Linked DNA regions of Homo sapiens. The protein of the gene in region 2 interacts with the protein of the main gene of each other region in a biochemical or structural test. Each region holds a gene or a part of one and is shown on either strand. Other genes may lie near its edges.

What was found. Proteins that work in one complex are often made in the same cells at the same time.
Region 1: of the proteins of PDPK1 (region 2) and PTPRO, one has a biochemical effect on the other in vitro, tested with the Homo sapiens proteins (one large-scale study listed by IntAct).

The regions. Positions count from the first base shown.
Region 1 is NC_000012.12:15,591,508-15,595,007, forward strand, and holds part of PTPRO (receptor-type tyrosine-protein phosphatase O isoform a precursor), read left to right. Parts: intron 1-3,429; coding exon 3,430-3,500.
Region 2 is NC_000016.10:2,600,355-2,603,688, reverse strand, and holds the end of PDPK1 (3-phosphoinositide-dependent protein kinase 1), read right to left. Parts: 3' UTR 501-3,334; downstream 1-500. UniProt on the Homo sapiens protein: Serine/threonine kinase which acts as a master kinase, phosphorylating and activating a subgroup of the AGC family of protein kinases.

The sequences.
Region 1 (3,500 bases), on a different chromosome or scaffold from region 2:
GTTATCAAGCAGCCACCATGTCGCTTTCTGCAAAGCCAAGAAAACGTTTTGTTTTCTCCCTAAATGTTTTACCCTAAATTTTGGTTGTTTTATTTGTTTATGCCAGCATTTTATGTTGATATCTCCGCGGACACAGCCTTTTTAAAGTACAGTATCCCCATCCTGGCCAACATAGTGAAACCCCTTCTCTACTAAAAATACAAAAATTAGCTGGGCGTGGTGGCACACGCCTGTAGTCCCAGCTACTCGGGAGGCTGAGGCAGGAGAATCGCTGGAACCTGGGAGGCAGAGCTTGCAGTGAGCCAAGATCGTGCCACTGCACCCCAGTCTGGTGACAGAGCAAGACTCCGTCTCAAAAAAAAAACCCCATAAAATAATTAATTAAAATTAATTATGAAATAATTAAATAAAAAATAAAGTGCAGTATCCCTTCCCTGAACTCTCATGGGGAGTTCAAAGTCAGCAAAGGGGGCAGAGGTTCCCCGGGTTACTTACTTTTTCCAACTTTTCTAGCTTGACCCTTGATTCCCGCAGGACTTCCTGGTGGATGTTTTCCAGTTCCAGTTATTTATCTGTGTCTTTTTTTTTAACTTATGTCTAGAACATCTTCTTCATTTACCTTTATTTTTTCCTTGTTCCTCTGCTTACCATGGTTCATCCCGTATTTTGAATACAGATTGATCTGCCTAAGATTCTCCTTAAGCCCATTCACATTCAAATTCTGCTGCCAGGTCACAAAAGTTAACAAGGAAAGAACAAAGTAAAAAAAGGTTATTCTTTTCACATGTATCATCCTAGAGTACTCCTTTGACGCTAATGATTTTCAAGAGAATGAAATGGTTCTCCACTTGAGCTCTGTTTTTATGTATATAATCAACCCACATAGACCATATTTCCTCCCATCACTGGTATCTAATTTTCCAGCCTTCTCTACATTGCCTTGACCCCACCATTCCACCTCACCCAAAAAATTGCAGAAGTAGCTGATAGGATGAGCCATGTCTCCAGGTGCAACATGCTGCCTGGACTGCACTGTGACCTGCCCTCTTCCTCTTCCTCACCTGACCAGACACACTTCATAGACTTCTTCACGCAAGTAGAGGCGTATTTAGAAAGAATGCCAGACCCTGAGGGGAGCCTGAATCTCCACTTTACTGCTGCACAAGTCATGTCACCTCTCAAGGCTCCCATTTCTCTTCTGTAAAATATGAATGATAACTTTCACTAATTTTTGTAAAGCAGACATGATGGGAAATAATATAACCTAGATAAGTGATTTGAAACTGTGAAGTGCTACTTATGAATGATGTTCTCCTCTCTTCTATTTTTATCGAATATTTTGTTTGGTTTTCCTCTAATATCCTTCCCTGGAGGTCAGTTGGGGCTTTGCTTTGAGCAGCCCATCCTCTTGATCTGCAGTTTGAATTTCGGGACTTTCAAGGACAAGTCCCTCCATAAATAGTCTTTATTTACTTTTCTTGTGGTCTTGTTGTTTGGTTGTTTTTTGTTTTGATACAAAATGTAGCCACTAAGCAGATGCAGATTGAATGTCCAGGCAATCTCTGGTCTTATCTATTCCCTGTGTTGACATAACACCAGAAGCAATGGATTAGGTGTCCATGTGTGATGACCACAAGGGGTAGCTCAGCCACTGATAGGATACCATCACCACAAAAGGGAATATATTTTCTCCAAACCGTGTTGAAAAATACAGGTTAGGCTGAGGCATCAATCCAGTGATGTTCGAAATATTAATTTTGTTTTTTGTATGAAGTTGTTACACAGGAAGCTTCTTAAAATCCTATGAATATTTTGACCGGATCTCATTTAAATGTTATTTCTAGTGCTATTACTTATAGAGAAACTCTGGGAAACAAAGAAAAAGGAGGAACACTGTGAAATTACCCTTACTTCTTGGCAGAAAGATATATTTTGGTGATTTCATTTTGGCTTTCATTCAAGTATAACTTTTACATGATTGTGCTCATATTATATGTATGTATATATGTGTGTTACTTTACATTCTATTTACATTGTAGTTTCTCATTTAGGATTTTACTATGTAGCCTGTATAGTATCAAAAATTACCTACAACTCTATAAATCTCATTTTAAGGACAGACTAATGTTTCATTAAAGATACACTATTGCATACTTAAACCAATCTCCTTTTTATAGAACATTAAATTGGATTATTTTCCACTTTTTACTATTATCTGTGTCCACACCATTTATTAGCACTTTATTAATTCTACCTCCACAAACAATAGGTAAAATGGACTGCCTCAACAAACTTGTCATCATTAAATATTATTCTTTTCCTTCTAGCTTTGTCCACTACATAGATAGAAAATAATTATTTCAATGTACTTTGTATTACTTGACTATTGTTGGCATATTTTAATATTTCCTCAGTTTACTTCAAAAATCATTTAATAAACACAGCTAAGTGCTAAGCATTAGGAATAAAAAGACATAGTTTCTAACTTCCAGGGAATATTTGGCCTAGTGGTTGATGTCCTTTACTTATTTGTCTATTTGTATATGTTACTGATTTGAATGACTTTATCACAAAAATAAAGGCATCAATATTCTGTCATAATTCTAGAAAATATTTTTCTTTTCCAGTTTGTGGTTTACCCTGTGTTTTATTCTTTTTAACTTTTTAAAATATACAGTAGATTGAGATTTTTATTTGTAATGTATTCTACTGCTCTTAATTTTAGAAATTCCTTTCCTAAAGGAATCAGAGAGAAATTAACCAATATTTTCCTCTGTATTTTTAAAGACAATTTATTAAATTACCTGGAATTTGCTTTGGTGTATGATAATGGGATATCCTTTTTTTTTCAAAATAGCCCCATGATTTGATTGAATATTCATTTCCTTTAGCATTAATAATGATTTAATGTACAGCATGGTGAACATAGTTCATAATACCGTATTGTATACTTGAAATTTGCTAGGAAAGTAGATCTTAAGTGTTCTCACCACACACACACACACACAAATATATATACATACATATATATGTATATATACACACACATATATATAAACATATATATAATCTGGGGTGATGAATGTGTTAACTAGCTTGATTGTGGTAATCATTTCATAACATATATGTATATCAAGTCATCACATTGTACACCTTAAATATATACAATTTTTATTATACTGCAATAAAGTTAGGGGAAAAAAATTCCACTGTTTTTTTAAAAAAGCCATGATGTTCTAAGCTCTGTTATTAATCAAAATACTTGTACAGTTGATTCTCTTGGATTTTCTAGTTATAAAACTGTGTCTCTGTAAATAATGAAAATGGTTTCCTTTAACACCAGATCTTGATCATTAAAATTGTCATAGTATAAAATATTATATCTTTGCACATGTCTGCTCTGAAACCTGTTTTTGTCTTTTGTTCCAGGAGCAGTACATTTTTATCCATCAGTGTGTGCAACTGATGTGGATGAAGAAGAAGCAGCAGTTCTGCATCAG
Region 2 (3,334 bases):
GTACAGGAAGGATTTCGGGTCCTGACACAGCGGCGTCTGCCCAGTGGTGAGGAAGTAGGTGCCGCCGCTGTAGAGCCGGACCCACTTGGACCTGCTGCTGGGGCGCTGGGCCAGGACGCTGAGCCCCGCGCTTTAAGGGAGGCACAAGAAGCCACCCCAACCCCGCCCCGAGCCTGCCACGGGCCAGCGGCAGGAGCTCGCAGTGATTCCCCGCCATGATCCCAGCAAGCCCCACCACACCTCCGCTTCACCGGAAGAGTCCGGCTTTTAATATCGCCCTTTGCGTTCTGTCCCGCCCACTGGTCAGCCCTTGTAGAACACCCGCCGGTCACATGGCAGGCGGAAGTTCCATCCGGGAAAAGCAGCCGGCTGGTCCCACTTCCGGAGGGAGTGAAACCGAGCTTGGGGCGCCAACGCTAGCGGGCAATGGCAGACACCCGCCCCCAACCGCGCCCCCACTCCGTGGCGGGGTCAAAGGAAGAGCCACGCCAGCAAACCTCTACACTCTACATGCTTTTTATTACAAGACTACTGACCATACGAGGAAAATTCATCATCTGGTAACTACACCTAAAGCACAAGTATTTGGAAAAAAAAAAAGGATAAACAGATTCATTAAATTATATGATTAAATCACTGACCCAATAGAAAATTTATATAATAAAGCCAGAAAAAAAGTTGTAAAATATAGTTTACAATAATTATTCACATTCAAGGCTGTACATCAATACATACAACAACGTGGCCCCGAACATGAATTCAATTCAAATAATTCATATATTAGAATTTAAATAACACAGACTGAACTAGAGGCCAACAATAGCCAGCAAATAACCTTATATAAGAATAAAAATACAAAAGTGTATATCCTAGTATCATTGCATTTGTTTTCATAAGTTCTTTTAATTTTTGCTTTGTCTGTACATCACAGTTACAGCTACAGACCAGGTAGAGAATATTACGCATGTTCTGCTTGCCACCCACCTGAAAGACGTACTAGTCATTTATCCTATTTTATGTTGTGAAGGAACAGCTACAGCAGCTCTAAATACTGTAACAATTTAATTTTGCCAACATCCAACTTACTTACAGTCGTAATAGAGGCTTTTACCAGCACAATGACCCCTATTCGTAGTCATTCTGCCAGGTGGTTAGGCTATGTGGGTTACACAGCTTAAAAAAGGTCTGCCTTTTGTAAAAAGTTCTCTGTACATAGTTTGGTGTTTCTTCATATGGAAGAAATGAGTTACGGGGAAAATTCAGGTACACACGTAGGCTCGTTCAGTTGCTCACCACAGCCATCTCAACAGATGAAAGTGCTCTTTGTTGGAAACAGCTTCCTCCTCACACCAGTTCTCCACAGGCAGCCTCATCTACAACCCTGCAATTTTGGGCCAGAAGTGGTGGCCCCTCAGAGGCTCTGAAGTGCCTCCAGCCCCGATTCAGGCACTTGCCACGTGTGCTGCGTAAGAAGGGACCCCCACCCAGTGAGTCAACATAGGCTCATGTCAAGTTTGAAAATAACTGGGGAAAAGTGTATGACAACATCTTCCAGAACAAAGTACCTTCACCGTATTCTCACAGCAGCTGCGATCTCTGAAGTCTCAGCAGTGACCACCCCGGGTCTGTCAACCAGCCAGGCAAGGGGGGGCCCTCAGGCTTCAGAGGGCAAGAAACCAAATTCCGTGCAATTTGGCCATAATCTCTGGTAGAGTGAAGCAGCACTGAACACGGTGCCTAGAAAAACCTCCTGCACGTTCCCCTGCACAATCAATGGACCCCAACTACAGTGGAGAAATGAAGAATCCAACCAAATTTGGGTGGTCTGGACTTGCTGCCAGCCAGGCAATCTGCAACACTGTGGGCAGGGAGTTGGGGGGGGCGGCCTGAAATCTACACCAGCTGGGACAACCACGCCCTACAATGAAAAAGCCAGCCTGGCTGCTGGGCTCTTGTGAACCACTAAGACCTGAAGGTGGGGCCCCACGGGTGGAAGGGGGAGACAAATGCACTCTTGTAAAACCCAATCAGCTACGTGGTTTTTTTCAAAGAGGCTTTGCTCTGCTACTGATTCCAAATGTCCTAATATACCTTCTGAGTCTATAAACTTAATTACAAATCACTCACTAAGCATGTGGCAAGGTCAGTTCAACACTTGTTATCTCTGCTGACTGTGCAGATGCAAATTCAGTACCATTGTGGACACGAAGTACAAGATTCTGCCAAGCGCTTGAAAGCCACGGCAGCAGGGAGGGCAGAGAGCTGACATGCAGGCAGAGCCAGGTTCTTGCAACCAAAACAAGGAAATTGGCTCTTGGAAAAAATCGGCCACAGATGGATTGCAGTAGTGACATCCTCTTAGCATTTAAATAAAGAGCGGTCTTATTCAGACATTCTTTGGAACACATGGCTTATCAGAAACCGATTTGTTCAGAATCTGTAAGACACAACTAAGGTGGTTCTGCTACTGGAAGTGAGCGTCTACACATCAGGTCGAGAGAGAGACAGAAATATCTTCAAAATGAACAAACTCTTTCACCTCAAAATACCACTTCCAGGCATCTAAGGGGGAAAAAAGTAAGAAATCAGAAGATTTTAAAGATATTCATCACAGCATTATTTAAATAGTGGAAAAATCAGAAACCGTCTTAAGTATTTTACAGTAGGGAAATGGTCAGATAAATTATAGTAAATGGACAATGACTAAATAGTACAATTGTTAAAAACATGTTTCTGAGAAACTCATGACATGGGAAAATGCTTAAAATATCAAGGGAGAAGACGATGCAAACGGTGTGTGTCGGATGTTCCTATTTTAGTTTAAAAAGTGAACAAATGGCAGGGCAGGATATACGGCAAAATGCTCACAGTGGTCTTCTCTGGCCGGTGAGCCTACAGCTGATCTTGTCAGAGACAAACGTTAGTTTTACTGAGTCACCCAGAGCCCTGTGCTGGTGCCTGAGGGTTTGTTCCATGGGACAGTCTCCACAATTCCTCTGGGGAAGGGCCACAAATCCCACAGTGTGTCCCAAGAGGGCTGGAGTAGGCGGAGTCCCCAGCAGCTGTGGCATGACCAGCCATCTCTCTCAAAACAATTGTTAACAAGCCTTCTGCAAGTTAAGGTTCCACATGGTAGCCGTGGTACAGAGGCATTTCTCTAGGGTGGAGAGGCTTGTGCTCTACACCAGGACTGCCCACCGCCCTGGCTGGGGCCACACAAAGAGGGGAGAAAGGAATCCCTCAGAAGCCAGCCCCCAACTGTGTCCCAGAGAAAGGCGGGGCACCTGGGACACCTAGGCCGGCAGCGACCACAGCCTCCCTCCGCTTTGTGCCG